Homo sapiens: one gene and its partners. The protein of the gene in region 2 purifies or fractionates together with the protein of the main gene of each other region. This does not show direct contact. Each region holds a gene or a part of one and is shown on either strand. Other genes may lie near its edges. The genes, in order: BMPR2, LRRIQ1, NOTCH2 and ACVR2B.

What was found.
Region 1: the proteins of LRRIQ1 (region 2) and BMPR2 purify together in Homo sapiens (affinity purification with mass spectrometry; 2 studies listed by BioGRID and IntAct, with this or other methods). This does not show direct contact.
Region 3: the proteins of LRRIQ1 (region 2) and NOTCH2 purify together in Homo sapiens (affinity purification with mass spectrometry; 2 studies listed by BioGRID and IntAct, with this or other methods). This does not show direct contact.
Region 4: the proteins of LRRIQ1 (region 2) and ACVR2B purify together in Homo sapiens (affinity purification with mass spectrometry; 2 studies listed by BioGRID and IntAct, with this or other methods). This does not show direct contact.

Annotation. Positions count from the first base shown.
Region 1 is NC_000002.12:202,371,642-202,379,334, reverse strand, and holds the start of BMPR2 (bone morphogenetic protein receptor type-2 precursor), read right to left. Parts: upstream 3,009-7,693; 5' UTR 1,861-3,008; coding exon 1,785-1,860; intron 1-1,784. UniProt on the Homo sapiens protein: On ligand binding, forms a receptor complex consisting of two type II and two type I transmembrane serine/threonine kinases.
Region 2 is NC_000012.12:85,053,349-85,060,373, reverse strand, and holds part of LRRIQ1 (leucine-rich repeat- and IQ domain-containing protein 1), read right to left. Parts: intron 4,828-7,025; coding exon 3,190-4,827; intron 1-3,189.
Region 3 is NC_000001.11:119,912,663-119,919,687, reverse strand, and holds part of NOTCH2 (neurogenic locus notch homolog protein 2 isoform 1 preproprotein), read left to right. Parts: intron 1-74; coding exon 75-376; intron 377-1,134; coding exon 1,135-1,282; intron 1,283-1,925; coding exon 1,926-2,023; intron 2,024-2,993; coding exon 2,994-4,382; 3' UTR 4,383-7,025. UniProt on the Homo sapiens protein: Functions as a receptor for membrane-bound ligands Jagged-1 (JAG1), Jagged-2 (JAG2) and Delta-1 (DLL1) to regulate cell-fate determination.
Region 4 is NC_000003.12:38,456,880-38,463,904, reverse strand, and holds part of ACVR2B (activin receptor type-2B precursor), read right to left. Parts: intron 4,475-7,025; exon of another isoform or gene 4,331-4,474; coding exon of another isoform or gene 4,216-4,330; intron 1-4,215. UniProt on the Homo sapiens protein: Transmembrane serine/threonine kinase activin type-2 receptor forming an activin receptor complex with activin type-1 serine/threonine kinase receptors (ACVR1, ACVR1B or ACVR1c).

The DNA of each region.
Region 1 (7,693 bases), on a different chromosome or scaffold from region 2:
TACTCTCCCTCTATGGAAAAGGGGAATGATAATAACCTACAACATAGAATTGTCATGAAGACGAAATGAAAAAATATATGTAAAGTTATTTGAATAGCTGATGGTGCATGGCAGGCACTTAATAAATACTAGCTATTATCATTACTGTTACAGGTCTGAAATCCAGCTTCACAAATTTTGTCATCTGGTGCTATGCAATACCAAAGAAAAAAAAGACTACAACCACTTTTAAGCAGTGATTCTTTTACTCTCTCCCTTTTAAGAGACACTATTCTAAGATGATTGTATTACCAAACAAAAATTAAGTTTATTTTTAAATAAATGCTTTTTCTCTTACTTTTATCAGTTCTGATCACAATATTATGAGCACGTCATCATAAATGAGAATCTATATTCTAAAAAGGTTAAGAATAACAAATAACATTGAAAAGCCTATGTTCTGAGATTTCTGCTCATGGAACGTTTAAGGCCTTTTACTCCATATTTTACAGGAACCACATGGCTTATGGCTAGAGAATTTAAATAGCTAACACAATATAAAGAAATTTAGAGAAAAATCATTTTTACTCTGAAAGCAACTACAATTATTAAAAATATTAAAATATCAGTTTTAAAGTAAACTCAGAAGTTCAAATTATTTTAACAGAACCATATAGATTTATCATCAATTTAACAGACATTAATCAACAGTAGACATTATTCAACAATAGCAAAAGCATAAAAGGAAACTTCAAATTTTCTTCGGCATTTTCCTAGATCAGACTTTCAAAATGAAAATAAGCAAGTAACCTCTGTATCTAACATAGCAATGAGAAATTTGTTTAATGTGAAACACACTTATCAAAAGAAAAAAAGTAATTCGAAAGGGTCATTTGGTCCTTTACTCGTTTTAAAAGCACAATCCATTTGCCCATCATAAACCAAGTGTACGAGTTATATGTAGAATTCACTCCTGAAAATTTCTAAAAGCAAATCACCAAAAGGCTGCTTGAAAAAATAGTTGCAAATAGAAGATAAGGTCTTTTTCCTAAGGTTTCTGAGAACTGAAATGAAAATATCCAAAGGAAAGGATGACTACCACCCTTTAGACTTTAGTGAAATGTCAAAGAACTTTCGGAGTCAAATCTCCTAGAAGTCTAATGTCAGGTCAAAGTTGTCTCGACAGCAAAGCCAATAGATAGATGCCAGATGACTAACAGTAAAGTTATCAAACCGTATAATACAATATATCAAGAATCTCACAGTTCTGGCTTCCTCAACATTTATTCTATTCATTCGGTAACATTTCTGAATAATGAAAGGAACATGGATTCCCAGAGTGATCTAAATTTCAAAATAAGGTTCAAGTGTGTGTTCTCTAGTTGATGTTCTTTTTACTATAAGCCAAAACCGCTTCTTTATAATAATAATTTTAAAAATCTACAGGTCTGTTTCCAGAGATCTCATAATAAGCACTGTTCACTGGTGATTAAAATATTATTTTTAATCGTTGCATTACCTCACAGCTAAAAATGTCAAGATACCACACCCAATATGTCTTTTTCACCCCGTAAAGGGGGGTGGGGTGGGAATATGGAAGTGGGGATAGGAAAATACACAAGAATATTAAAGGCGATTTCCCTGGAAGGCATGGGGCAGGCGCGCAGGCACCGGGTCGCAGCTCCGCTGCACCGCGATCGGGGGGACGCATGGCGAAGGGCAAGCACAGGCCTCGGCCTCTGCGGGCTCCCTCCCTCGCCACCCGCAGGGGCAGTGGCCGGGACGTGCCGGCCGGAGCTACTCACCAGCCGCAGTGCTGACCAGCAGGATGGTCCATGGTAGCCAGGGCACCCGCCAGGGCCGCTGCAGCGAGGAAGTCATCCCTGGGCCAGCCAAGAATCAGGAGGGCAAAGAAAAGAAATATGGGAAGTAGACCGGCGGAGAAACAGCCGGGAGGCTCGTCTTCTCTCCCGTGGACTGATCCTGCCCGTATCACAATACAGTTTGAAAGGACAAATGGCTGATGAGAGGACCTAGCTGCAGAGCTTTCATGCCGCTGCAGAAATTCCCTTCATTTCTCTCCCTCGCGGCTGGGGGGGTTCCTTCGCCTCGGACGGGGTGCCGCGGCCCTCCAAACGGAAGGCATGTCTGTGGGGAAAGCAGGGAGCCAAGAAGAAATCCCCCAAATTATTTCCCTCGTAGTTTCACGATATCAAAAAAATATCCAGGTCTGGGAGAAAACATATCCAGGGTGCGGAGGGCGGGGATTCGATCCGGGGTCGGGGGGCGAGGGTCAGAACTAGTTCCCGACTGCCGGGAAGGACGAAGCCGGACGGGCGGCGGCGGCGCCCGGCAGCCCTAGTCGCATCGCCCGCGGCTCCGGGAAGGCAGGATTCCTTAAGTTTCGCTTCGGTGCTTCCTTCACTCTGATTTCGAAAACAACAAATCCTCTTCCTTGACTGGATCAAAAAAGGTGCCTGCCTCCATGGACAAGCTCACAGTCCCCACGCCTTCGCAGAACAACCGTGAGAGGGTTGGGGAGGCCCTGGCGAAGGCTGAGGAGAGGTAGGAGCGGGGGAGGGGAGGGGTCGCGGTCGCGGCCCCGGTCCGGGCTCCCCGAGACGGCAGGCGGAGTGGGTGTGAGAGGCTGCCCCTTCTAGTCCTCCCGGCGGCGCTCCCTTCCCTTCCTCGCTTTTTATTCCTGCGGCTCGATCTTGCCTGAGGTAAATTCCACCAAGAAAGCCTCCTCTTCTCCCGTCAATGGCTCCTGTGAGCGAATCACAACCCCCCGAGGAAGCCGCTGCTGCTGCCGCCGCCGCCGCCGCCGCCGCCGCCGCCGCCGCCTCGTTCTCCCGCAGCTCTGGGCTCCTGACGGAACTCGGGCGTCGCGGACCGAGGGCGGGGGGCGGCGGGAGGGCGGATGAAGGTAGCCGGGGAAGGGGGTGGGCAGGGAGGCGGCGAGACACCCTGCGTCCCTCCGGGAGGCACTTCCAGTGGCTCCGAGCAGACCAGACACAAAGGGGGGAGTCGCCGCAGCTGCCAGTCTGCGGCGCTCCCGGTCACCGGAGTCGCCCCGCCTCCGCCGCCGCCTCCGCCTCCTCCTCAGTCTCCGGCTCTTCCCGGCCCTGTCTGTCTCTAGCCTGTGGTGCAGAGCGGGCGGCGGCGGCGGCGGCGCCGGCGGCGGGATGAAGCCCGCACTGCGCCTGCGCGCTCACGGCCCCGCCCGGCCCCGCCCCTCGTTCGGGGCTGGCTGAGGGCTCCGAGGCCCCACCGCAGCGCGTCTCTCCGGTGAATGGCCGAGGGCTGGGTGGGGCTGCGGTGGGCAGCGGTGGCCTTTCTCCTTCACACACATACACATGCCTTCCAAATGTGCATGGCTTGGGATTCGCGTATTTGTTTAAGAGACGACGGCCACATCCTTTTGTTCGGCGTTCAGCAGACTCCTCCGAGTTCCGGGATTTCTCCCGACTGAGGCGTCTCCGTCTCAGTACTCTCGGAGGAAAGCCTCGAGGGGCAGAACTGCCCTCTGTTGTTTCACGGGGCTGGAACCTCCCTCTCCGCAGCCCAAAGAATCCGGATGGACCCGCCTTTCCCAGAACCGGAGACCTTGGCCTCCTCAGGCTCCCCTCTGACTCAAACAAAAGCCGGAATTGGAAAGACCACCCCTTTGATGTGTTCGCTGTAATCGACGTCCTGCTTTCCTCAACCGCCCATTCCCTTAGCCTTCTTAGTTGACAGGAATATTGAGTATTTGCAAGGATGCGAAGCCAGAAAAAAAAAAAAGACTTTTAATTCTATAAATCGTCCCGCTGCGTGCGCGCGTCTGTCCGTACAGCGCGGTGCCCACCCCGAGAGAGGGCCTGGATTCACCAAGGCTGGGGGCCTTGAGGGCTTTTTAGGGCACGTGAAAGGAAAATGGAGTTAGAGTTGTGTCGGGATAGAGAGTGGGATCATTTTGCACTCAAGGAATTGAGAAGATCCCGTTGGTACCGCAGTTTCCAAGGATTTGTGTAGTGCGTTTTTTGGATCTGGTTTGTACAAGCGACCAGTATAGGAGACGGGATCCCTCCCGCCCTTACACCCCGCTGCGGGGTCAGCCGACGTGGGTGGGATTTTGCTGGCGGCGAGGGGAGAAGGTGACGTGCGTGGCGCCATGATCGGAAGTCTGGACTGAATTCTTAGCTGCGAGGTGGAAAATGCGCGTGGGAGGGCGATCTTGAGGGGTGAAGTCTGGCCTTCCCATCTCCTACCAGGCAGGAGGGTTATGCTGAAGGCTGGTTTTGCTGGTCTTTCATTGTGGCTAAGGGCAGTTCCACAGATACAGTCATAGATAGACTCCTTAAGTCATGCTCTGCTTGCTTCTTCTAGTCCGCTGTTACCTCTTTATCTGAATTTGATGTAAATAAATCTCCACATTCCTTAAACTGGTTCTGTTATACTAAACATCTTCCATAATTAGGGGTTGTAGCAATACCAACCCCGGATTCTAAGACTCTTTTTAGTTGAAATATGTTTATGCTGTTTACCCTTTAGACAGAGAAAAAAAAATTCTACCTAGTAAAATCCCTTAAAAAGACGAAGAGCATATGCTTTGATTCATTAGCTTTATTTATTTAGGTTTTATTTATTTATTTATTTATTTATTGAGGCGGAGTCTTGCTCTGTCGACCAGGCTGCGGTGCAGTGGCGCGATCTCGACTCACTGCAACCTCCACCTCCCAGGTTCAAGCAATTCTCCGGCCTGAACCTCCCGAGTAGCTGAGATTACAGGCGGCGCCATCACGCCCGGCTAATTTTTGTATTTTTAGTGGAGACAGGGTTTCACCATGTTTGCCAGGCTGGTCTCGAACTCCTGACCTCACGTGATCCGCCCGTCTCGACCTCCCAAAGTGCTGGGATTACAGACGTGAGCCACCGCCCCCGACCGATTCTTTATAGCTTTATTACTGTATTTTGTTTTGCCCAAAAGGTCTAAATTAGAAACGGTATTGTTTTACCATTTGTCTTTCAAGAACTGAGAGTTTCTAGCACTCAGAGAAATTGGATTTTAGTATGTTAGAGGTGCAGAAAGTTTAAAGTTTATTAATTCGTAGTACACTTTTATCTTCCTCAAATTGAGATCAAGTACTTCATCATTCAATTTTTATTTGCTTAAGATTTTTTCCAAGAAACATTAAGTGTCCTTTTTGTAGTTCCCCCTTATCCACCGTTTCAGTTACCTGCAGTCAACCACGGTCTGAAAATATTACATGGAAAGTTCCAGAAATAATAAGTGGTGTTTTTTTTTGTTGTTGTTGTTTTTGTTTTTTTTGAGACGTAGTTTCTCTTTTGTTGCCCAAGCTGGAGCACAATGGCACGATCTCAGCTCACAGCAACCTCCGCCTCCCAGACTCAAGCGATTCTCCTGCCTCAGCCCCCTGAGTAGCTGGGATTACAGGCATGCGCCACCACACCCGGCTAGTTTTGTATTTTTAGTAGAGATGGAGTTTCACCATGTTGGTCAGCCTGGTCTCGAACTCCTGACCTCAGGTGATCCGCCCTTCTGGCCTCCCAAAATGATAGGATTAGAGGCGTGAGCCACTGCGCCTGGCCTCATAAATTTTAAATTGAGTACTGTTACTAACTAGCTGTGAGGAAATCGCTGCCATCCCACACTGTCCTTCTGGGATGTGAATCATGGTTTGTACAGTGTATCCGCTATAACCTCCTTAATCACTTAGTAGCAGTCTCTTATCAGACTGACTGTGGCAGTATGCAATATCCAAGTGCTTGTGTTCAACTAACCCTCGTTTTACTTAATAATGGCCCCAAAGCACAAGAGTAGTGATGCTGGCAATTCAGCCATACAGAAGCTGTAAAGTGCTTCCTGTAAGTTAAAACGTCAGAGTTCTTGCCTGTAATCTCAGCACTTTGGGAGGCCGAGGCAGGCAGATCACAAGGTCAGGATGATCGAGACCATCCTGGCTAACACGGTGAAACCCTGTCTCTACTGAAAATACAAAAAAATTAGCCAGGCGTGGTGGCAGGCGCCTGTAGTCCCAGCCACTCGGGAGGCTGAGGCAGTGAATGAATGGCATGAACCCGGGAGGTGGGGCTTGCAGTGAGCCGAGATCATGCCACTGGACTCCAGCCTGGGCGACAGAGCAAGACTCTGTCTCAAAAAAAAAAAAAAAAAAAAAAAAAAAAAAAAAAAAAAAGTCAGAGTTCTTGACTTAATAAGGAGGGAAAAAAATTATAGGCTGAGGTTGCTAAGATTGCTGGTAACAATGAATCTTTGGCAGGGTGCAGTGGCTCACGTCTGTAATCCCAGCACTTTGGGGGACCAAGGCAGGAGGATCACTTGAGGTCAAGAGTTCAAGACCTGCCTGGCCAACATGGTGAAACCCCGTCTATACCAAAAATACAAAAATTAGCTGGGAGTGGTGGCACGTGCCTGTAATCCCAGCAGCTACTCCGGAGGCTGAAGCAAGAGAATCACTTGAACGCAGGAGGTGGAGGTTGCCCATTGCACTCTAGCCCGGGCGATAGAGACTCTGGCAAAAAAAAAAAAAAAAATCTATCTGTGAAACTGAATTGTGAAGAAAAAATAAATTCATGCTAGTTTTGCTGCCATACCTCAAACTGCAAAAGTGATGGCCACAATGTGTAATAAGTGCTTAGTTAAGATGGAAAAGGCATTAAATTTGTGGGTAGAAGACATAATAGAAATGTATTCCAGTTTATAGCAATTGGGTTCAGTACTGTCTGCAGTTTCAGGCATCCACTGGAGGTCTTGGAACAAGTTCCTTGTGGATAAGGGGCAGGGAGGACTACCGTACATGTTATAAATGTATGATAAATTATATAGAACATAAAGAAAAGGTCTTAGGAAATTCACAAGAAAAAACACATGCCGCTGACTTGGTAGGTAGACAACTAGATATGTACCCTCTTCCCTTTTCTGTTCCTTCTTGTGATATTTCAGTTGGGACATGGCTGTTCACTCACAGTGAGAAAGAACATCAAAGAACAGAATTAAGACTTGGCAAGAAACCTGTCCACGACAAAAGGCAGACAATGTAAGTCAAGCTCAGCTGAGAACAAAGGACTGGTGATGCAGGTGAGGTTTGGCATCTGTACTAATTAGGATGGGCTAAATTACAGTAACATTCACCAAATCTCAGCATCTTATTGCAATAAAGGTTTATTTCTCACACATGTTACATGTTTGATATAAGTCATCAGGGGACCCATCGCAACTTGAGTTCACAGGAAATAGACACTGAAACTCTGAAATTTGTATGCAGGAGGTTATTACCTAATGATGGCAAGAGCAACCTCTGTGGGGATTGAGGGATGCAAGACTGGGCAGAGGGAGAAGTTGAATTGCAACACATTTGCAACTGAGGCATCAATCAATCCTGCAGGAATTCTGGAGCTGGGCTGGCCTTTCAGCATTGTCCTAATCTGTGTCTGCTAACACTTTAAGGTACACCTAAAAGACCCCCCAAACCCAGCAAGCTTTTCATTCAAGATTCCTTCAGTGGAGTACATCTAGGGAAAAAGTCCCTCAAGTATACTGATAATTTAGGCTCCTTGAATGCTGCCTTGGAGTAGGAAATCCAGCATTAGACAGACTGCCTAGCCAAGTTGGGTAAAACCAGTAAATTTTTTTTTTTTTTTAAAGACGGAGTTTCGCTCTTGTAGCCCAGGCTGGAGTGCATTGGCACGATCT
Region 2 (7,025 bases):
TAAAAATAAAAAATAAAAATATATTCATTACCCATAATTATTGCTCTTTAGTCTTCTCTTTTGAGATATTACTGCATATAACCCAATGGTCTAGTATTTTCAACTTTATAACTTTTTTGATGAAACGGGCTATTAAGCAGCCCTCGAAAACAATCCATTTGCCTTCTCTTTGCTTGCTTGAGACCCACATTTGACAAGTGGTATTAGAAGCCCTGGGCCATGTTCTTTACATACAGCATTTTAAAACTCAGTGATCCTATATAATAGATATTGCTGTTCCAGTTTGTGAAAGACAAAACTGAGGCTCATACAGGTCAAGCATTTGCATAAGGTGTCACAGCCATAAGTGGCAGAAATAAAATTAGAAACAGTCTTAACATAGAACTTAGTAGTCTAATAAGCTACACTTCAGTAATTTTACATTCATTTCCTCTTCAGTCAATATACTTTATCTAAACTGTGAAACTGGTAGTAATGAGGAGATAAGATTAACATTCAATTGCAGTTCTTTTTTTTAATTATACTTTAGGTTACATGTATACATGGGATACATGTGCAGAACATGCGGTTTTGTTATATAGGTATACACGTGCCACGTGCCATGGTGGTTTGCTGCACCCATCAACCCGTCCTCTACATTAAATATTTCGACTGGAATTCTTTATTCATCAATTGATTCATCCCCCCACTCATCCATCCTATAATCAGGTAATGAAAGTCATTACAGATAGTTCCTGACAAGAGATAGTTTAGCGTAGAATTTTTTTTAAATTTTATGATGGTGTGAGATCAATAGACATTTAGTTGAAACCATACTTCAAATTTTGAATTTTGATCTTTTCCCAAGCTAGCAATATAAAGTATGATCATTTCTCACAATGTCAGGCAACGGCAGGGAGCTGCATCTCCCAGTCAGTCACATGATCATGAGGGTAAACAACAAATACTCTACAGTGTACCACGTTGCCAGATGATTTTGCCCAGTTGTAAGCTATGTAGGTTTATCTGGATGTAACTTCATTGTAACTTGAGGAGTATCTTTATTTGCCTGGCAATGTGTAAAGAAGTATGAACAACACGAAGATCCGATTTATGTCTTGAAGTCTCAAAGTAAGAGATTAATGTAAGCAAAATGAATGCATTACTGGGAGACAATAAACTTTTCTAAGTTGATCTCCAGAAGGACATCCCAAGGATGGCAGTGAGTGATCAGGATAAGGATAAAGATCTGAAGCTAAAAGATCAGAAAGTCAAAAAGAAACTGAGCCATGGATCAGTAGTAACAGTGGTGAATAAAGACACCATGGTAAGCCATCTACCAAACAGAATCTTTACAGGAGTTGTCTGGTAACAAAAGATGATATTTTCTTAACATTTTAGCATCTATATGGCACATTCACATGTATTTTTCATCTTTATACTGCCTATTTGATGCTTCAAAGCTAAATTAAAAGCTTGAGATAGTTGCTTTAAGAAGGGATGAGAGGATTATGGTGCCCTTTAGAACACTGCTACTCAGATTAGTCCACTCACCAGCACCAACATCATCATTTAGAATCATTGCAAGAATGGAGAATGGGTGGATCACCAGACCTATTGAATCAGAATCCACATTTCTACAAAGCTTCAGGTATTCTATAGATTTTAATAGTTTGCCAGGCCTTGCTCTAAGAAGTAAAAGAAAGAGTTAATTATCATTTTATGTAAATTGACAAACGTTCGAAAGAAGGAACAGAGAGTCAGCTGGAGAAGAAATGCCAAGGAGAAAGAGGCTCACACATCTTAACTTCCTTCTCATTGGACAGAACAGAGACCTACAAAGCAAGGGAGGAACACTACTGTTTCTGTAACTTCATTTTCACTTTTGAAGCAAGTACACTGTAGGCATGAAGCCATCACTCTTGCCTAGCTTTAACAGATACTCATGAGGAAAACTAAATAATTGCTAATGTTATCATATTGGAAGGCCTGCAGCAATATGTTAGAGAAAGAAAAGTGCTAAAACATGATTCCAGAGATAACATGCGCAAGGAAAAAATTGGAGAAGAGCAGATGAGAGATTCTATATGTAGCTCTGCAGACCTGACAGATGTGGCAAATACATTACCCAGGAAATAAAAGACACTTAAAAGTGTATGTCCCAGTTCTCATCTCTTATATTGCTATTTCATATACCAGAAATATCTTCAAAATCCCACTATTTTATTATTCTCTCACAGGATACTCTGAAGCCTTATTTACAGCAATTCTCAAGATCCATAATAACGTATTTATGTGTGTTTAAGCTCCGTAAAAGACTGGGTTTTCTTTGTTTATTAGTCAACCAATAAATATTGATCATCTTATTGGATAGATGAATATTTGCTGAGTGAATAAACAAAATAATGTTTATCTATTAATATGATTGTTCTTTCTCCTAGGCATCTGTCTAGCAAGAAAGTCTATCAAGAAACTAAATAAACTTTATTGAATACTTTTGACTTTCAGGCCTTAGCTAAATATATGTATTTTAATCATAAGTGCTTTCTAGTGTTACACTGTTTAAAATATTATTTTCTCTTTTTCTATACGTTTATTAGTTTCTGTGTCTTAATTTTGGTTGAAACTATGTTCTCCATAACCATATAAAATTAGTAACATTTGATGACAACTATTTTACATTTCAGACATATATGCACCACCTTTAAATAGCACACGCTAAATAATTGTTGCTAGATGGGAATTCTAGGGTCTTCAGGGTCTTCTATCATGCAAGCCCTTCTTTCACAACAGTGGTCATGGACATAAAATCCACTTTATTCCAAAAGCAGCCACTAGGTGGTGTGGTGGCTCAAGTCTAAAGCAAACTTCTGTTTACTTAGGAGTTTCCTACTATAATTCTAACCCTAACTTTCTATATGCTTCCATTCTTAGAGGTTTAAATAATGACTGGAGGGCCCTTGAACACAGGCTTCAAGATATTAAAAAATATAAATCAAAGCTTTTTATAGAGTGTCACTTAGGGAAGATGCCTCGAACAATTTGTTGAGATATATCCCCTCCCAAATGGGGTAATATTTCATTCATAACTTTATTAAACAAGAGACAATTCTTGTATACAAAATATTTCTTTTTCTAAGATCTGAAAAGTTATACTTTAAAGAGCTAATTGTAATTAAATGTGAAAAATTATTATAAAATTAGAAATACCTGCTGTAAAGTATCCCAAGGGCCACATCGAAGAATTTCCAGTTTATCCAAAGCGGGTGTCATGTTGGCTGGGCATTTCACAGGTCTCTTTCTTCTAACAATTTTCTTTTGTTGATTTTGCTTGAAAATTTCAAGCCAAGGTTTAAATGATTTTATCCAGGCTAGTCTCCTTTCTTCAATAGAATATAGAAGGGTTGACTCTGATACACAGCAGGTCATGCTATCAGGTTCAGGTGCATTTTCATGGCATTTTTCTGAAATATTTCTAATCTCAGATTTAAGAGAGTTGACTTCTTTAGATACCATGGAGCTTTCTGCATTATAGTTACTCAAGCCCTCACAAGGAGCATGTCTACCTAACACATAATCTTGGTCATTTCTTTTGCCTTCTATATTTATCATGGTATCAGTTGTGTTAAAAATCACAATGCCACTATTCCAAGCATTGTCTTTTGGGTTCTCCTCAATTTCTTTGGATTTTGAATAAATTTCTTTTTCTTGTAATATTACGTTTTCTCTTACATCTTTGGAATTTTCTGATGTTAGTGAGAGTGATCTTTGTTTCACTGAAATAACTAAAGTATCCTTATCTTTATATAATAATCCATTCTGTTCTTGTATCTCTTCTTTTTCTACTTTTTGTATCTTTTTCTGCTGATTATCTTTGATTATTTTCTGCTCTTCATTGGTTTTCACCTCACTGATTTCTTGGTTATGTCCTAATATTATCTGGGTTTTTTGTCCTGTATTCTCATTTATGACATGTTTCATGATTTTTTCTTCTTTTTGTGCATCAGACTTTAATTCTTGCAATGGAAACTGTTCTTTCAGATTTCCTTTTAGATCAGAGTTTCCCAATTCAGTTTTGTTATCTGTATTTTCATATTTTCTTTCTTGCTTGACCAATTCTTCTGAACATCGTTTTTTTGCTAGGTTTTCATTTTTTTCTTCCATTTTAAAATCTGCCAGAATTGTTTGGCTTGATATAGATTCTTTTAACTTTACTTGTATTGATTCTTTTAATATAGTCTGTCTATCTACATTTTCTTTCATATTTGATTCCTCAACTAGCCAAAGGAGAACATCTTCCTGCTTCTTTGAATTTTCATCCACTAGATTTTTGGCTATATCACCCTTATCATTTGAAATATCTTCAAGACTTAAATGTTTGTTATTATATCCGCTCTTCTTTAATGCACTACTTATTATTAGCTGTTGGCTTGCATCTTCTCTTAATATTATTTTTTCCTTGCTTATTAGTTGCTCTCTTTCCTGTTTCACAATATTCTTTTTTTCTTCATATTCTTTTTCTCTCCTTTTCCTTTCCTCTTCCTTTTGCTTTTTTCTCTCTTCTTTTATCCTTTGTTCCTCCTCTAATCTTTTTCGATTTTCTTCCTCCTTTTGTCGTATTTTTGCTTCCTTTTCCTTCCACTCTTGTGCTTTCCTTTTCTTACTTTCAATTTGCTCTTTAATAATTGGGCCATATTTTTGATAGGCAACAAATGCTTTATATTTAGCTTGAATTTTAACAGCTGCATTATTCTGCTGTTTTAACAAAGAATTTTTTTCTTTTTCTTGTTGGTCTTTAAATCTTGTTCTTTCTTCTTCCATTTGTAAATGCAAGTTTCTAATATACTCCTAAAACAAAGTAAGATACATGGTAGTCAGCATAAACTAAACATGAGATGTTACTAAAATGTCATCTGAAATGTAGATTGAAAACAAATACTAAAACTGAAGTCTTAATAAAGTTTCTATAAAATTTATTTAGAGAAACTAAAGTCATTTATCTTAAAGGGTATTACTTTTTTAATATTTAGGAGATTGAATCATGTTAAGTTGATACTCTAATGTTACATGTATTCTAAGCCACCCAGATATGAATTGAAGATTTCCTTGAAGATAGAAAGCATATAAAATCAGAAAGACACAGAATAAGCAAGCAAACAACAACAACAACAAAAGGGAAACCACAGGCTAAAAACCACGTAAAAGAAAAGGACTTCAAACTTTCTGGAATGAGAGTTCTGATAAAGAAGACTCAGAGCTAGTATTGAGACTGCAAAAACAGGAATTATTTTGTGAAACTTATGGTACCAAGAAAGCCAGATAGTCCCTACATACAAACAATATACAGAACCAGCCTACTCACATATCTTATCCCTTCTCAATGATCAAAATAGTTGATAACCACATACTACTGCATTTAATGAAATATTTAGAGTTAGGTGAGAAAATATTATTTTTACTAGAGTCCTAAACCAAAAGTAAGAAGATCAACAAAATTGAGCAAATATCTAACGGAAACTAACAAAAAGGATATGAGACTATATTTTAATCAGCAGAAGGAAGAACCAATTTCTGAGAAAATCAAACTATTAAATAAACTAGATAAAAATTTAAATAAAGATATTTTAGAAAAAATATTTAAACAGGAATAACCTCATATTTCAAGTGTTCAAATAAAAACGACTCACTTAAACCAATAATCAAAATAGAATGGCTGGATAGCTGATTACTTAAAAAAAAACTTCAAAATGAGATGTTTTCCCCAAACAACAAATAATAACAAAGATAAAAATTATATGTCGGAGGTAAAGAAGATTAACACAGAAACTCCAACATATGACTAGTAGGAGTTCCTGAATAAAGAACTGAGAAAAACTGAAGGGAAGAAAATAATAGAAAAATACGTTTTCTTAAAAACAACAACAAAAAGCCATGGGAGAAAGACCGAACATTGCATGCACACATACACAACACACTTAGACAGATGCTAGCAATATTTCAGACCTCTGGGGAATGTAAGCTGTTAGTTTTACTGTGCTCCTTTTTAGGTGGTGTGTCTTTTTGCCTCTGGATGCTTCCAACACTATTTTTCCTTTGTCTTGAATTTGAATAGTACTATTTAATTCCAAGGTGTGATTTTCTTTGTATCTCTCCTCCTTGGAAATTGTGTATCGCATTTGAAAGTAGGGATTATTTTCAATTTTATGTACTGTCATATCTTAAACACTCAGAGAAGTGCCTGACCTAGTAGAAAACCAGTAAATATGTGTGGATGAATGTATAAAATGAAAAATCCTAAAGCTTCAAAAGAATGTAAGGAAAAGGCATCAAATTTGCAATCATAGATAGCACAGGCAAAAATAAATATGCAACAAAGTCATATCTTTACATTGTTAAGGGTGGTAATAAATCTGTATTCCACACCCGAAGAAACTGACCATTCATTTTTAAAAGCAAACTAAAAATATTTTCAATCCTGGGTAACACGGTGAAACCTTGTGTCTACTAACAATACAAAAAATTAGCTGGGCGCAGTGGCGGGCGCCTGTAGTCCCAGCTACTCGGGAGGCTGAGGCAGGAGAATGGCGTGAACCCAGGAGGCGGAGCTTGAAGTGAGCCGAGATGGCGCCACTGCACTCCAGCCTGGGCGACGGAGCGAGACTCCATCTTAAAAAACAAAAAACAAAACAAAATATTTTCAAATATGCAAACAAAGATTGAGAAAATCTAGCATCCAAAAATGTTTTTTGACAACTATTTAAGTGTATACTACAGGAAATTAAAAATTGAGTCCAGAAAATGGAGGAAGAGTCAGGATTCAAAGAACACTAATAAACAAAGAAACCATTATCATTGAATACTTACGTTTTTTGAATCGTCTTCTTTCTTCCATCATTTTACTTAAAGATGGCTATTTGTTTTACTGTTACTCCTTTTTAGGTAATGCGTCTTTTATCCTCCAGATGCTTCTAAGACTTTATTTTTCCTTTGTTTTGAATTTCAATAATTGTATTATTTATTCCAAGGTAGCATTTTCTTTGTATTTA
Region 3 (7,025 bases), on a different chromosome or scaffold from region 2:
ATAGAGCTGTTTCAACCATAGGGTTAACTACCTTCTCCTTCTTGAGTACTTTATGGAATTTTCCATTCCTACAGATGGCTGCACCCCATTGATGTTGGCTTCTCTCCGAGGAGGCAGCTCAGATTTGAGTGATGAAGATGAAGATGCAGAGGACTCTTCTGCTAACATCATCACAGACTTGGTCTACCAGGGTGCCAGCCTCCAGGCCCAGACAGACCGGACTGGTGAGATGGCCCTGCACCTTGCAGCCCGCTACTCACGGGCTGATGCTGCCAAGCGTCTCCTGGATGCAGGTGCAGATGCCAATGCCCAGGACAACATGGGCCGCTGTCCACTCCATGCTGCAGTGGCAGCTGATGCCCAAGGTGTCTTCCAGGTAAAGAACATGAGAAGAGTCACTTGAATAATAATTCCTATGGCTCTATAATGTTTTATCGTTTTTAAAGAATTAATATCTCATTGAATTTATTCAATCATTTGAGAGATTAGGGCAGGTATTAGAGTCATGCTTGGTAGATGGGAAAGTGGGAAAAGGGAGGCAGGCAAATTGACCTAGCTATATATAGGAAGATAGTGATAGAGCCAACTGCAGACAACACCAGTCTTTCTGATTATTAGTGATAATTTGTTGTGCCAAGATGCCTCCCAAATGCGTAGATTAGATGAGAGTGATAGCTGGTCCGGAGCCTTTGACTAGTATCCGCTACTTCTTATGGATTGGCCTGACTGTATGGGCTTCTAGCTGCTCATTGGCAGTTTTCTTGACCTGAGTTCATATTATATTCCCTGATGCCTGTTTATCCTTATGAGGAAATTGGAAGCATTCTGAATCACCTTAGGCTGTATCCTGACTGAAGTTGTGATATTTCCCCACATCCCTCTTCTTTCCTGAGAAAGTAGAAGGCTCATCACTTTACATCAGCCATTATTTATTGAGCATGTATTTATTTATTCATGCAACAAATATTTATTGATTGATCATGATAGAATCTTGGGCACAAAGATAACAAGACTTTCCCTCTCCTCCAGGAATCTACACTGTAGCCTCAGCTCTGATGCCCTTGTTTCTTCACTGAGTTTCATTATTTTCCTTCATCCAGGTGACTCTCTTTTCTGTACTTTCTCCTCTTCTAGATTCTGATTCGCAACCGAGTAACTGATCTAGATGCCAGGATGAATGATGGTACTACACCCCTGATCCTGGCTGCCCGCCTGGCTGTGGAGGGAATGGTGGCAGAACTGATCAACTGCCAAGCGGATGTGAATGCAGTGGATGACCATGGTAGGGATGAAAGGCAGGGATTTGGATTCTTACCTGCAAAGCATGCCTCTGACGAGGGGAATAGAGTTACGTGACCCTTAGAGAACTGCCTGAGATCCAAATACGTGAGAGATTCACTCATTCTTTCATTCATGCATTTATTTAACATGCTGAGCTCAGAGATCCAAGCCAGTAGGAGATCCCTAATTAAAATGAGGGATTTTTAATGAGGGTTCTTGGACCTCAGAGCAGATACATGAAAGGTGTTCCCATGTAGTTTCCTAGGCATAACACTTGATTTGAGGATTTATGAGAGCTGACTTCTCTAGGAGAGTTGTAGAATATTCTCAATATAAATTCTGACATGTAATATATAGGTTTTTATCTTCAGTATGTAACAGGGTAGATTCTGCCATGTAGGGGACATGAATGCCTCATACAAGTGATCCTTTCACCTAGAGGTCTTCTGCAGGCTAGGCAGCCTGTACTGAAGTATTTCTAGAACAGAGGAAAAAGAAGAGATTACTTTGGTTTTTCCTATAGACCCCTACAGAGAACTGCTTCCTGCTGATCTCTGGGGAGTTTAAGATTTCATTGTGCAAGTCATAGTGTCTTATACTAAGAGTAGGATATGTCTGTTTATAAAAATGTTTCTCCCCTGCAGGAAAATCTGCTCTTCACTGGGCAGCTGCTGTCAATAATGTGGAGGCAACTCTTTTGTTGTTGAAAAATGGGGCCAACCGAGACATGCAGGACAACAAGGTACAGTTTGTGGGCTCTGAGCTTGAGGAGGCTCATAGCAGTGCCTCAGTTATAAGCCCATTCCCGTTTCTCCTTACAGCTTCTCTTGTTATATGTATAGACAAAGATGGAAGCAGTTTGGGCAGACACTGGGTTTCGAGAGCTTGATGAGGATATTGGGCTTGTCCAGGCATGTGTCAGGATGGAGTTCTCTGCCCTCTCAGTACTCAGCTTGCAGTAGGCTGGCTATAGATAGCTTGGTGTAACTCTTTCTCTTCCCTGACATTTCCTTTTCTCCAGTTGTCTCTTCTGTTCATAATCACTTCTTTTTCTCGTTTTCTTTCTTTTTTCCCTCCGGCTGCTTTTTTTTCTGTCCTTGGATACCCTGATGTTTTCCTGTTTGATTTTTCTCCATCTGAGTTTTTTGTCCTGCTTCCTTCTCTCATTCATCTTCTCTCAGTTTTCTTTGTTTTCCTTATCTTAGTCCTTTCTTGCACATGTTTTGTCTCTTCTTTCACTGTTTCCCTTACTTTTCCCAGTTCTGTGCATGCCTTAGTTTTTTCTCTTCCTACCTTTCTTATTTCTAACTCCTTTTCCTATTATTTCTTATTTCTAACTCCTATTCCTACCTTTCTTATTTCTAACTCCTTTTCCTTAACCTTATTTTGATAAGCTCAGTACTCTTTTAAGTGAGTCTCTGGCTCAGGGGCATGCTTTATTTTATGAATTCCCAACTAAAGAGATGTTCCCCCTAAGGGGCAAAATTGTTTTTTTGAGGAGAGGTGAAATAATCTTACTTTTTTTATGTGTAAATCACAGATACACATTCAGTACATTGGTAGAGGCACAGCCTATCTGTGGTGTTAATATTTCATCGGGGAGATAATTAGGAAAACATGTCTAAGGGGGTGATAATAAAAAAGATTGAGAAAAACTGCTATATTCTCAAGAGTGTTATTAACATGTGTTCTGTGATGGGCCTTTTCTGTAGGAAGAGACACCTCTGTTTCTTGCTGCCCGGGAGGGGAGCTATGAAGCAGCCAAGATCCTGTTAGACCATTTTGCCAATCGAGACATCACAGACCATATGGATCGTCTTCCCCGGGATGTGGCTCGGGATCGCATGCACCATGACATTGTGCGCCTTCTGGATGAATACAATGTGACCCCAAGCCCTCCAGGCACCGTGTTGACTTCTGCTCTCTCACCTGTCATCTGTGGGCCCAACAGATCTTTCCTCAGCCTGAAGCACACCCCAATGGGCAAGAAGTCTAGACGGCCCAGTGCCAAGAGTACCATGCCTACTAGCCTCCCTAACCTTGCCAAGGAGGCAAAGGATGCCAAGGGTAGTAGGAGGAAGAAGTCTCTGAGTGAGAAGGTCCAACTGTCTGAGAGTTCAGTAACTTTATCCCCTGTTGATTCCCTAGAATCTCCTCACACGTATGTTTCCGACACCACATCCTCTCCAATGATTACATCCCCTGGGATCTTACAGGCCTCACCCAACCCTATGTTGGCCACTGCCGCCCCTCCTGCCCCAGTCCATGCCCAGCATGCACTATCTTTTTCTAACCTTCATGAAATGCAGCCTTTGGCACATGGGGCCAGCACTGTGCTTCCCTCAGTGAGCCAGTTGCTATCCCACCACCACATTGTGTCTCCAGGCAGTGGCAGTGCTGGAAGCTTGAGTAGGCTCCATCCAGTCCCAGTCCCAGCAGATTGGATGAACCGCATGGAGGTGAATGAGACCCAGTACAATGAGATGTTTGGTATGGTCCTGGCTCCAGCTGAGGGCACCCATCCTGGCATAGCTCCCCAGAGCAGGCCACCTGAAGGGAAGCACATAACCACCCCTCGGGAGCCCTTGCCCCCCATTGTGACTTTCCAGCTCATCCCTAAAGGCAGTATTGCCCAACCAGCGGGGGCTCCCCAGCCTCAGTCCACCTGCCCTCCAGCTGTTGCGGGCCCCCTGCCCACCATGTACCAGATTCCAGAAATGGCCCGTTTGCCCAGTGTGGCTTTCCCCACTGCCATGATGCCCCAGCAGGACGGGCAGGTAGCTCAGACCATTCTCCCAGCCTATCATCCTTTCCCAGCCTCTGTGGGCAAGTACCCCACACCCCCTTCACAGCACAGTTATGCTTCCTCAAATGCTGCTGAGCGAACACCCAGTCACAGTGGTCACCTCCAGGGTGAGCATCCCTACCTGACACCATCCCCAGAGTCTCCTGACCAGTGGTCAAGTTCATCACCCCACTCTGCTTCTGACTGGTCAGATGTGACCACCAGCCCTACCCCTGGGGGTGCTGGAGGAGGTCAGCGGGGACCTGGGACACACATGTCTGAGCCACCACACAACAACATGCAGGTTTATGCGTGAGAGAGTCCACCTCCAGTGTAGAGACATAACTGACTTTTGTAAATGCTGCTGAGGAACAAATGAAGGTCATCCGGGAGAGAAATGAAGAAATCTCTGGAGCCAGCTTCTAGAGGTAGGAAAGAGAAGATGTTCTTATTCAGATAATGCAAGAGAAGCAATTCGTCAGTTTCACTGGGTATCTGCAAGGCTTATTGATTATTCTAATCTAATAAGACAAGTTTGTGGAAATGCAAGATGAATACAAGCCTTGGGTCCATGTTTACTCTCTTCTATTTGGAGAATAAGATGGATGCTTATTGAAGCCCAGACATTCTTGCAGCTTGGACTGCATTTTAAGCCCTGCAGGCTTCTGCCATATCCATGAGAAGATTCTACACTAGCGTCCTGTTGGGAATTATGCCCTGGAATTCTGCCTGAATTGACCTACGCATCTCCTCCTCCTTGGACATTCTTTTGTCTTCATTTGGTGCTTTTGGTTTTGCACCTCTCCGTGATTGTAGCCCTACCAGCATGTTATAGGGCAAGACCTTTGTGCTTTTGATCATTCTGGCCCATGAAAGCAACTTTGGTCTCCTTTCCCCTCCTGTCTTCCCGGTATCCCTTGGAGTCTCACAAGGTTTACTTTGGTATGGTTCTCAGCACAAACCTTTCAAGTATGTTGTTTCTTTGGAAAATGGACATACTGTATTGTGTTCTCCTGCATATATCATTCCTGGAGAGAGAAGGGGAGAAGAATACTTTTCTTCAACAAATTTTGGGGGCAGGAGATCCCTTCAAGAGGCTGCACCTTAATTTTTCTTGTCTGTGTGCAGGTCTTCATATAAACTTTACCAGGAAGAAGGGTGTGAGTTTGTTGTTTTTCTGTGTATGGGCCTGGTCAGTGTAAAGTTTTATCCTTGATAGTCTAGTTACTATGACCCTCCCCACTTTTTTAAAACCAGAAAAAGGTTTGGAATGTTGGAATGACCAAGAGACAAGTTAACTCGTGCAAGAGCCAGTTACCCACCCACAGGTCCCCCTACTTCCTGCCAAGCATTCCATTGACTGCCTGTATGGAACACATTTGTCCCAGATCTGAGCATTCTAGGCCTGTTTCACTCACTCACCCAGCATATGAAACTAGTCTTAACTGTTGAGCCTTTCCTTTCATATCCACAGAAGACACTGTCTCAAATGTTGTACCCTTGCCATTTAGGACTGAACTTTCCTTAGCCCAAGGGACCCAGTGACAGTTGTCTTCCGTTTGTCAGATGATCAGTCTCTACTGATTATCTTGCTGCTTAAAGGCCTGCTCACCAATCTTTCTTTCACACCGTGTGGTCCGTGTTACTGGTATACCCAGTATGTTCTCACTGAAGACATGGACTTTATATGTTCAAGTGCAGGAATTGGAAAGTTGGACTTGTTTTCTATGATCCAAAACAGCCCTATAAGAAGGTTGGAAAAGGAGGAACTATATAGCAGCCTTTGCTATTTTCTGCTACCATTTCTTTTCCTCTGAAGCGGCCATGACATTCCCTTTGGCAACTAACGTAGAAACTCAACAGAACATTTTCCTTTCCTAGAGTCACCTTTTAGATGATAATGGACAACTATAGACTTGCTCATTGTTCAGACTGATTGCCCCTCACCTGAATCCACTCTCTGTATTCATGCTCTTGGCAATTTCTTTGACTTTCTTTTAAGGGCAGAAGCATTTTAGTTAATTGTAGATAAAGAATAGTTTTCTTCCTCTTCTCCTTGGGCCAGTTAATAATTGGTCCATGGCTACACTGCAACTTCCGTCCAGTGCTGTGATGCCCATGACACCTGCAAAATAAGTTCTGCCTGGGCATTTTGTAGATATTAACAGGTGAATTCCCGACTCTTTTGGTTTGAATGACAGTTCTCATTCCTTCTATGGCTGCAAGTATGCATCAGTGCTTCCCACTTACCTGATTTGTCTGTCGGTGGCCCCATATGGAAACCCTGCGTGTCTGTTGGCATAATAGTTTACAAATGGTTTTTTCAGTCCTATCCAAATTTATTGAACCAACAAAAATAATTACTTCTGCCCTGAGATAAGCAGATTAAGTTTGTTCATTCTCTGCTTTATTCTCTCCATGTGGCAACATTCTGTCAGCCTCTTTCATAGTGTGCAAACATTTTATCATTCTAAATGGTGACTCTCTGCCCTTGGACCCATTTATTATTCACAGATGGGGAGAACCTATCTGCATGGACCTCTGTGGACCACAGCGTACCTGCCCCTTTCTGCCCTCCTGCTCCAGCCCCACTTCTGAAAGTATCAGCTACTGATCCAGCCACTGGATATTTTATATCCTCCCTTTTCCTTAAGCACAATGTCAGACCAAATTGCTTGTTTCTTTTTCTTGGACTACTTTAATTTGGATCCTTTGGGTTTGGAGAAAGGGAATGTGAAAGCTGTCATTACAGACAACAGGTTTCAGTGATGAGGAGGACAACACTGCCTTTCAAACTTTTTACTGATCTCTTAGATTTTAAGAACTCTTGAATTGTGTGGTATCTAATAAAAGGGAAGGTAAGATGGATAATCACTTTCTCATTTGGGTTCTGAATTGGAGACTCAGTTTTTATGAGACACATCTTTTATGCCATGTATAGATCCTCCCCTGCTATTTT
Region 4 (7,025 bases), on a different chromosome or scaffold from region 2:
GCCAACCCAAGAGAGAAGAATCACTGGAAACGAATCCTGACAGCACCTTCATCTTTAACTTCCAGTCCCCAGAATTGTAAGAAAAGAAATTTCAGTTGTTTAAGCCACCCAATCTATGGTATTCCATTATGGCAACCTGAGCAGACTAAGACACAAACAGCGCACATCATATGTATAATGTGGGAAAGCTGATTGGAGTATCATTTGTACTAGAAACAGTTCCACAAACTTGAGTGTCATCTAAATCCATTAGCAGGGCCTGACAAGTGGACTTACATAAAGAATCCCAACATAACAGTAAAGAGTAGGCAGCAAGCTGAAGAACAAGACTGGGAAGCAACAGCTTTGGTGAACAAGTCATCCCAAACTATCTTCCCTAAGTCTTCTGCCAACTGTGGCAGAGACTTATACAGGGAACAAGGCATACACTCAGCCAGGAACAGAAACTCACCAGAGCTCCTTCTGTCATGAAAAGCTTCTCACCAGACTCTAAAATAGTTTTTCTACAGGTTTCTCCAATACCCCCAACGTCATTATCACGACATATGAAATCAGAATTTGTCACACTCAGATTTTGTCAAATGCAGTGGGCTTGCCAGTAGTGCTGTTACCCAGAGCTCTTCAGCGACCTTCAACAAGTGCCTTAGTCTCTTCAGAGTCTGCACGCAGCATAGAGCCTGGTAAGTGAACATACATATGCACTTCCATCCCAAACCCAGACCAGCACATCCTGGCTAGTCCAGTGCTACCTCCCTCATCAGCACAGTACCCAGGAGACTCAGGCACAAGGTAGGAGACACAGGCACGAGAGGTTATCTCCAGGTCTCCTCATACATTAAGCCAGTGGAAGTGAGCCCTTCCCATGTCCGCGCACCCTTCATGAAACCAGGCTATTTCTAAACTCTGTAACCTAGCATTTCAGCAGGGGTTGGGGTGTGGAGGTAGGAAGGATGTTCACAGATTACCGCAGAGAGCCAACTGCCATATCACCCAGCTTCTACCCTCACTGCCATCACTTGGGTAGCCTCAAAAAATAAATAAATAAAATGGTATAACCATTTTTCAGTATCTATTAAAACCAATAACATACGTGCTTATGATCCAGATGTTATTTTCTCATCTACTCTTGAGAAACAGTCTGCATACATTCTATACAATCACAAAGTCCATCAGTAAGAAACTAGGTAAAATGTAGTCTATATTTAAACTTTAGAATATTACGTAGTTATTAAAAAGATCAAAGTAGATCCATATGTATCAGAAAGTTTGCCAAAGCAAATCTCCGAGTTTAAAAAGCCATGACATCCAACATAGCTTAAAGTCACAAACATGGTGAGGAAAAGATGGACACAAAGCAGTTTATTCTGTAAGGTTCTATTCATATGAAGCACAGAAACAGATGAAACTATTTTATGCTGTTAGAAGTTAGAATAGTAGTTAACCTTAGTGGGTGTGGGCAGAGACTGAAATGGAACAAAACAGGGCTTGCTGGGGATGGGGGGCTGGAAAATTTCTGATTCTTGACTTGGATGCTGACTAAACCAGTGTATTCAATTTGTGAAAATGCTTCTTAGCTGTTACTTATGGTAATTACTTGTACATTCTTCTGTATATGTTTTATACTTCAATTAAATGCTTGAATACCATTTTAGGTGGAAAAAAGCCTATTTATTTATTTATTTATTTGTTTGTTTATTTATTTATTTATTTTGAGATGGAGTCTCGCTCTGTTGCCCAGGCTGGAGTGCAGTGGTGCTATCTTGGCTCACTGCAAGCTCCGCCTCCCGGGTTCACGCCATTCTCCTGCCTCAGCCTCTTGAGTAGCTGGGACTACAGGGACCCACCACCACGCCGGGCTAATTTTTTGTATTTTTAGTAGAGACGGGGTTTCTCCATGTTGGTCAGGCTGGTCTTGAACTCCTGACCTCAGGTGATCCGCCCACCTTGGCCTCCCAAAGTGCTGGGATTACAGGCATGAGCCACCACGCCCGGCCAAAAGCCTCTCTATTTCTATAAGTATTTCTATAGATGCACAAGTAAAAATGTCTGGAAGAATACATCTCAATCTTAAAAGGATTACCTTTGGAGGGGGCCTCGGATGGGGAACAGAAGTGATAAAAGGAGACCCTAGTATTATCTGTAACATCTAAATTTCTGCAATATAATGTAGGTATATTACTTGTTTAAAAAGTAATAAATTTTTTTTAAATGGGAAAATTAGTTATGGGGGAAGTGACTTCTACTCCCCCAACTATACCCCAGGGTGGCTAACCTCTCAGTGATGGGAGGTTTGGATGCGAGGTTTCAGGGCAGGGGAGATAGGACTACATTGCCCTGGCCCTCCTTCTACTCCCACACAGCCCTGTAGGTCTCACCCTCAGCCAGAAGGTTCACAGAAGGAGCCAGCCAGGTGGGAAAAGAAACCAGAATTCATCTCTCTAACCCTTCTGCTCCTCTGGTTTCTAAGGCCCAGAGCAGATGAGCCTTGATTCACTATGCCCTCACTACACAGAGAAGCGGGACCTCTTGTGTGAGCCCTGGGCCACAGGACTCCCCTCTAACCCAATATCAAACCTCAGTGAGAAGGAAATTCCCAAAAAGTGCATAAAATAAGAGTTCTTAAACCATGGTTGCCAGCCCAGGCTGGGAAAACTCATGCATGCTTTCTAAATCAACGGACACATAATCCAGTTGGAGGGGAGGGGGAGGAGGGTTGTCAATGGCACTGGACATTCATTAAAAGGCATTGTCCTCATACCTGAAAACACTGTGCGCCACTGCACAAGCCAGAAGGAAAAAATATCCTGGCATCAACACTCGAGAGAGTCAGCTTCCAAGTTAGTCTCCTGTTTTAATTGGTTCAAGTCTGGGAGGCCACAGGGACCCCTCCTTCTCCTCAGATGGACGGATAACAGCTGGTCTCATCCCATCCTCCGAAATGCTCAGGCACAAACCTGGGAAGCAGCCTCCTCCATTCTCCAGCCAAGGGCTTGGGTTTCCAACCAGCCTTCCTTTTCCTTCTCCAGAACTAATTTTAGCCTCCTTGGTTGTCAGAGTGGAACTGAAATAGTCGGCAGAGGAACACATGCAAAGAGCATGAGCTCGCCTCACAAAACACCTCAGCTCCAGCCCAGAAACTGGCCAGGGAGAAGGCCCATTGTCCAGCAGGTCAGACCCATCCAGACAACATTCCCCTGGGAAGAGGGCCTCACATTTGCCCAGTGGGACAGGCTTCCTTTCCACACCCGCTTCCAGAGGTCATGCGTCCATGAATGAAAACACCCAGTTGGAGCTGCCAGTCCCAGAAAGAATCTGAAAAAGGCACATGCATGTGTACAGCAAGCCTAGAATAACCAGGGGAAAGCATGGGGCTGTCCGAAGGCGGGAAGCCATTATTGGTCCTGGGCCGGGAAGAGACATGGCTGACCCTTGAACAATCCCAGCCTGCTTTATCCATTGATTTCCAGTACCTACCACTGCCTTAGTCAGAGACATCACTGAGCAATGTAATAGAGTCAGAAGAAGGCAGCAGCATTTCCACCACCAGAAAACCTGGGCATTCAGTAGCAGTACCCCCAGGACCACAAGGAATAGGCACCTCTAGGGCTGGGATGGACCCGTAAGTCTGGTAGAGAATGAGAGACCAAAAAAGAAAGCCCAGAACAAGGGGGTGGGTGTCTGTTTTGGAACACAGAATTAGTGATAGAACCGGAGGGAAGGAAGAGAAAGAATTCTGAGAAGGAAATAAAGTCCCCTTTGTAAAGACCCCAAAAACAGATGGAACTAGGAAGTCTGAACCTCAGCAAGCACTTCACATACCAGTGATGTGGAGCACTTGGAAACTGGGTCTTTGAAAAATGCTTCCTCCACCCTAAGAGTCCAGTTTGTAATCACTTCCCAGTGCAGCAAACTGTGTCTCACTGAGTTCAAGATGAGACAGACAGAGTCCCACAGAAGCGTTCCCTAGCCAAGCTTGAAGCAGGCCAGGGGAGGAGTAGAAAATAAACATGGGGGCAGCCACAGGGGGCTGCCAGCCTGCCAAGCCCAATAGACAAGCCTCCACAGATACCAACCGCTCCACCAGGGCCTCCAGTGTCGGCTGCCTGTCTAAGGCAGCGCTGCCCACACCTCCCCAGGTCCACAGCAGGAAGCCTGGCCCTGCCCTCAGATTCCCATCTGGCCACCACACCCTGAGGGAGAGACTTGCACCCATACCTTTGGGGAGAGGCTGCCCACCTGCCCTGGTGTCCCCGGCCTGGGGGCTCCAGGCCCACAGCCTCTGCGGCTCCCCGGAGCGCCACATGGCAGGTCCACTCAGGGGAAGGGGCATGCCCACGGCCTGCTACAACCCCAGTGCTCCGCTTGGCAGACAGGGCTAGCCTTAGCTCCTGAGGCCCCCAGGTGAGCAGAGAGGGGCTGCTGGGCAGGCAGAGAGTCCCCAGCAACAGGCACTTCCTGGCATTTCTGCGTGTACGGGAGGAAGAGGCTGAGTGCCAGCCTTAAGGCAACGGTCAGAGGCGAGTGGGCGGGTGCGGGCAGGCAGGCTGCCCAGCCACCCACAGCCTCCGCCTCCCTGAAACCTGAACCACTTCTGGGAAAACTCAAGGACGCCAGGATTCTCCTCGGTGGTAAGCTGTACACCAGAACCACTAATTTTGAACCAAACTCTCACGTGCTGAGCAGATTTCACTAAGCAGGAATCTCCTAGGCTTTGAGGAGAACCTCACCTCCAACCCTGCATCCAGAGTGGGGGGATGGATATGCACTCAAAAGCCGTTACCCCTACTTCTTACAACTGTAGACCTCTTTGAAAGCGTGAGAACATTCTAGATCAGTGGTTCCCAATCTGAGATGATTTTGCTCTCACCTCTGCCAGGGACATTTAGCAAGATCTGGAAACATTTTTGGTTGACATGATTAAAGAGGATCTACTGGAATTTGTGGGTAGAGGCGGGGATACTGCTAAATATCCTACAATGCACAGAACAGCTCAACCCACCACTACCCATACACAACAGAGTATCATCAGGCCCAAAATGTAATAGTGTCAAGGTTGAGAAACCCTGTTCTACAGTGAGGCCCATGCAACCAGGACCCTGCCTCAGGACTATCTAGAGTCTATCTACAGTCACTAGCAAAAATATTATCCAGACCCAGTCCTCAACCCTCCAGATCCCAATCCATGGTGACAGGTCAGTATCCGTGAGTGGATCTAAACTCCTGAACCGATACTCCTTGGTTCTCATTTGCACTACCCTGAGCTCCCAAGCAGAGGGGCTGAATGCATAGGCTGGCACTCAAGAGGACAGCTTTCTGGAAAGAGAGACCAGGGCTAGAATCTGAACATCCGGCAGGATCACAAAAGGCAAAGTAAGTGAGGTACCAAGGTGGAAAAAGCACCCCTCCCCCGCAGAACAAGCTGCCCCTTAAGACTACTACAGTGGATATGTGCAGGGCAGCCAGGACTTCAAGGAGTCTAATCAGGGGGCAGTAGGTTCCCAGTATCTGTACAAAACAGAGTGGGTGCATACAATGTACACACACATGCACACATATACCGATTTACATTTTCCTGGAGGAAGGGTCCACAGCTTTCATCAGATTCTCAGAGGGGTCTATGACATGGAGGACCACTGTATAGAATGTGGGCTCTTCATTGGCTCCTTATAACAGGAGTTCCTTAGGTGAAGTGCCAGCAGAGGTCCAGGTGCTTCTGGAGATTCTTGATGCCCAGAAAGACCCACAGAGTAGTACACAGTAGAGGCCCACCCAAGTGATGGGAGGCCATAGGGTTTAGATCTTATGTTTTTACCCAGCTATAGGGCCTGGAAAGATGGGCAGGTTTCTCACATCATCTGCCTTGAAAGGGCCCCTAAGAGCTAGGGAGGATACCCATTCCTCCCAAAAGGCAGCCCACCCAGACAGGGCAGAGCCTCGAGTGCCCAGCAGATACAAGGACAGGTAGCAGAAAACACTCTTCTCTGGGAGGGGCACCCACGGCCCATGGCTCTGTAGCCCATGTCCTTGGCAGCTACCGCTACACTAGGCCTGAGGGATGAAAGTCACTTCACTTCATGAGCTCACTCCCTCCGCCCTCCCCCAAGGAAGTGGCCAAGAAACTTCTTTGGGTCAGCCTATCAGAGTAATCAGGGCCTGCACTTCCTGATGGGATAGACAGGAGGCAGGTCCCTCTCCAAGAGCTCTGGTCACTTCACTTAGAATACTGTTTACCCCACCCCCATAAGCCCTTTGATCTGAACCCCAAGTACAGAGTACAGAGACAGGTGTCAGGAGTTCTTGTAGGATACAGCATTGAGTGTCCAGGATGTCCACTGAAATGCAAGAGCCAAATGGCTTGTTTCCCAAGGACACTCGGCCAAGCACAGACCACAAAAGACTTGAAGAATTATTAAAGAACCAACTAACCACTGACTGATCTTGTGACAAGCACCATGTGACATTTATTACACCATAAATTCTACCTTCCCTTCTGAGATTCCATTGTCTAATATGGTAGCCACTAACCAAATGTTCTGCAGAGCACTGGAAATGTGGAAAGTTAGAGTTGAGGATGTTCTGTAAGGCACACACTGGATTTTGATGACAGTACAAAAATGGAATGCAAAATGTCTCGTTTTAATACTGATCTCAGGCTGAAATTACTTTGTATATATCAAATTCAGTGAAATATACTTTTTTTTTGAGACGGAGCCTCACTCTGTCACCAGGCTGCAGTGCAGTGACATGATCTCGGCTCACTGCAACCTCTACCTCCCGGGTTCATGCCATTCCCCTGCCTCAGCCTCTGGCGCAGCTGGGACTACAGGCGTGTGCCACCACACCCAGCTAATTTTTGTATTTTTAGTAGAGACGCATTTCACCACGTTGGCCAGGATGGTCTCGATCTCTTGACCTCGTGATCCTCCCACCTCAGCCTCCCAAAGTGCTGGGATTACTGGCATGAGCCACTGTGCCAGGCCAGTAAAATATACTATTGAAGTTCATTCCATCTCATGGAAAGAATG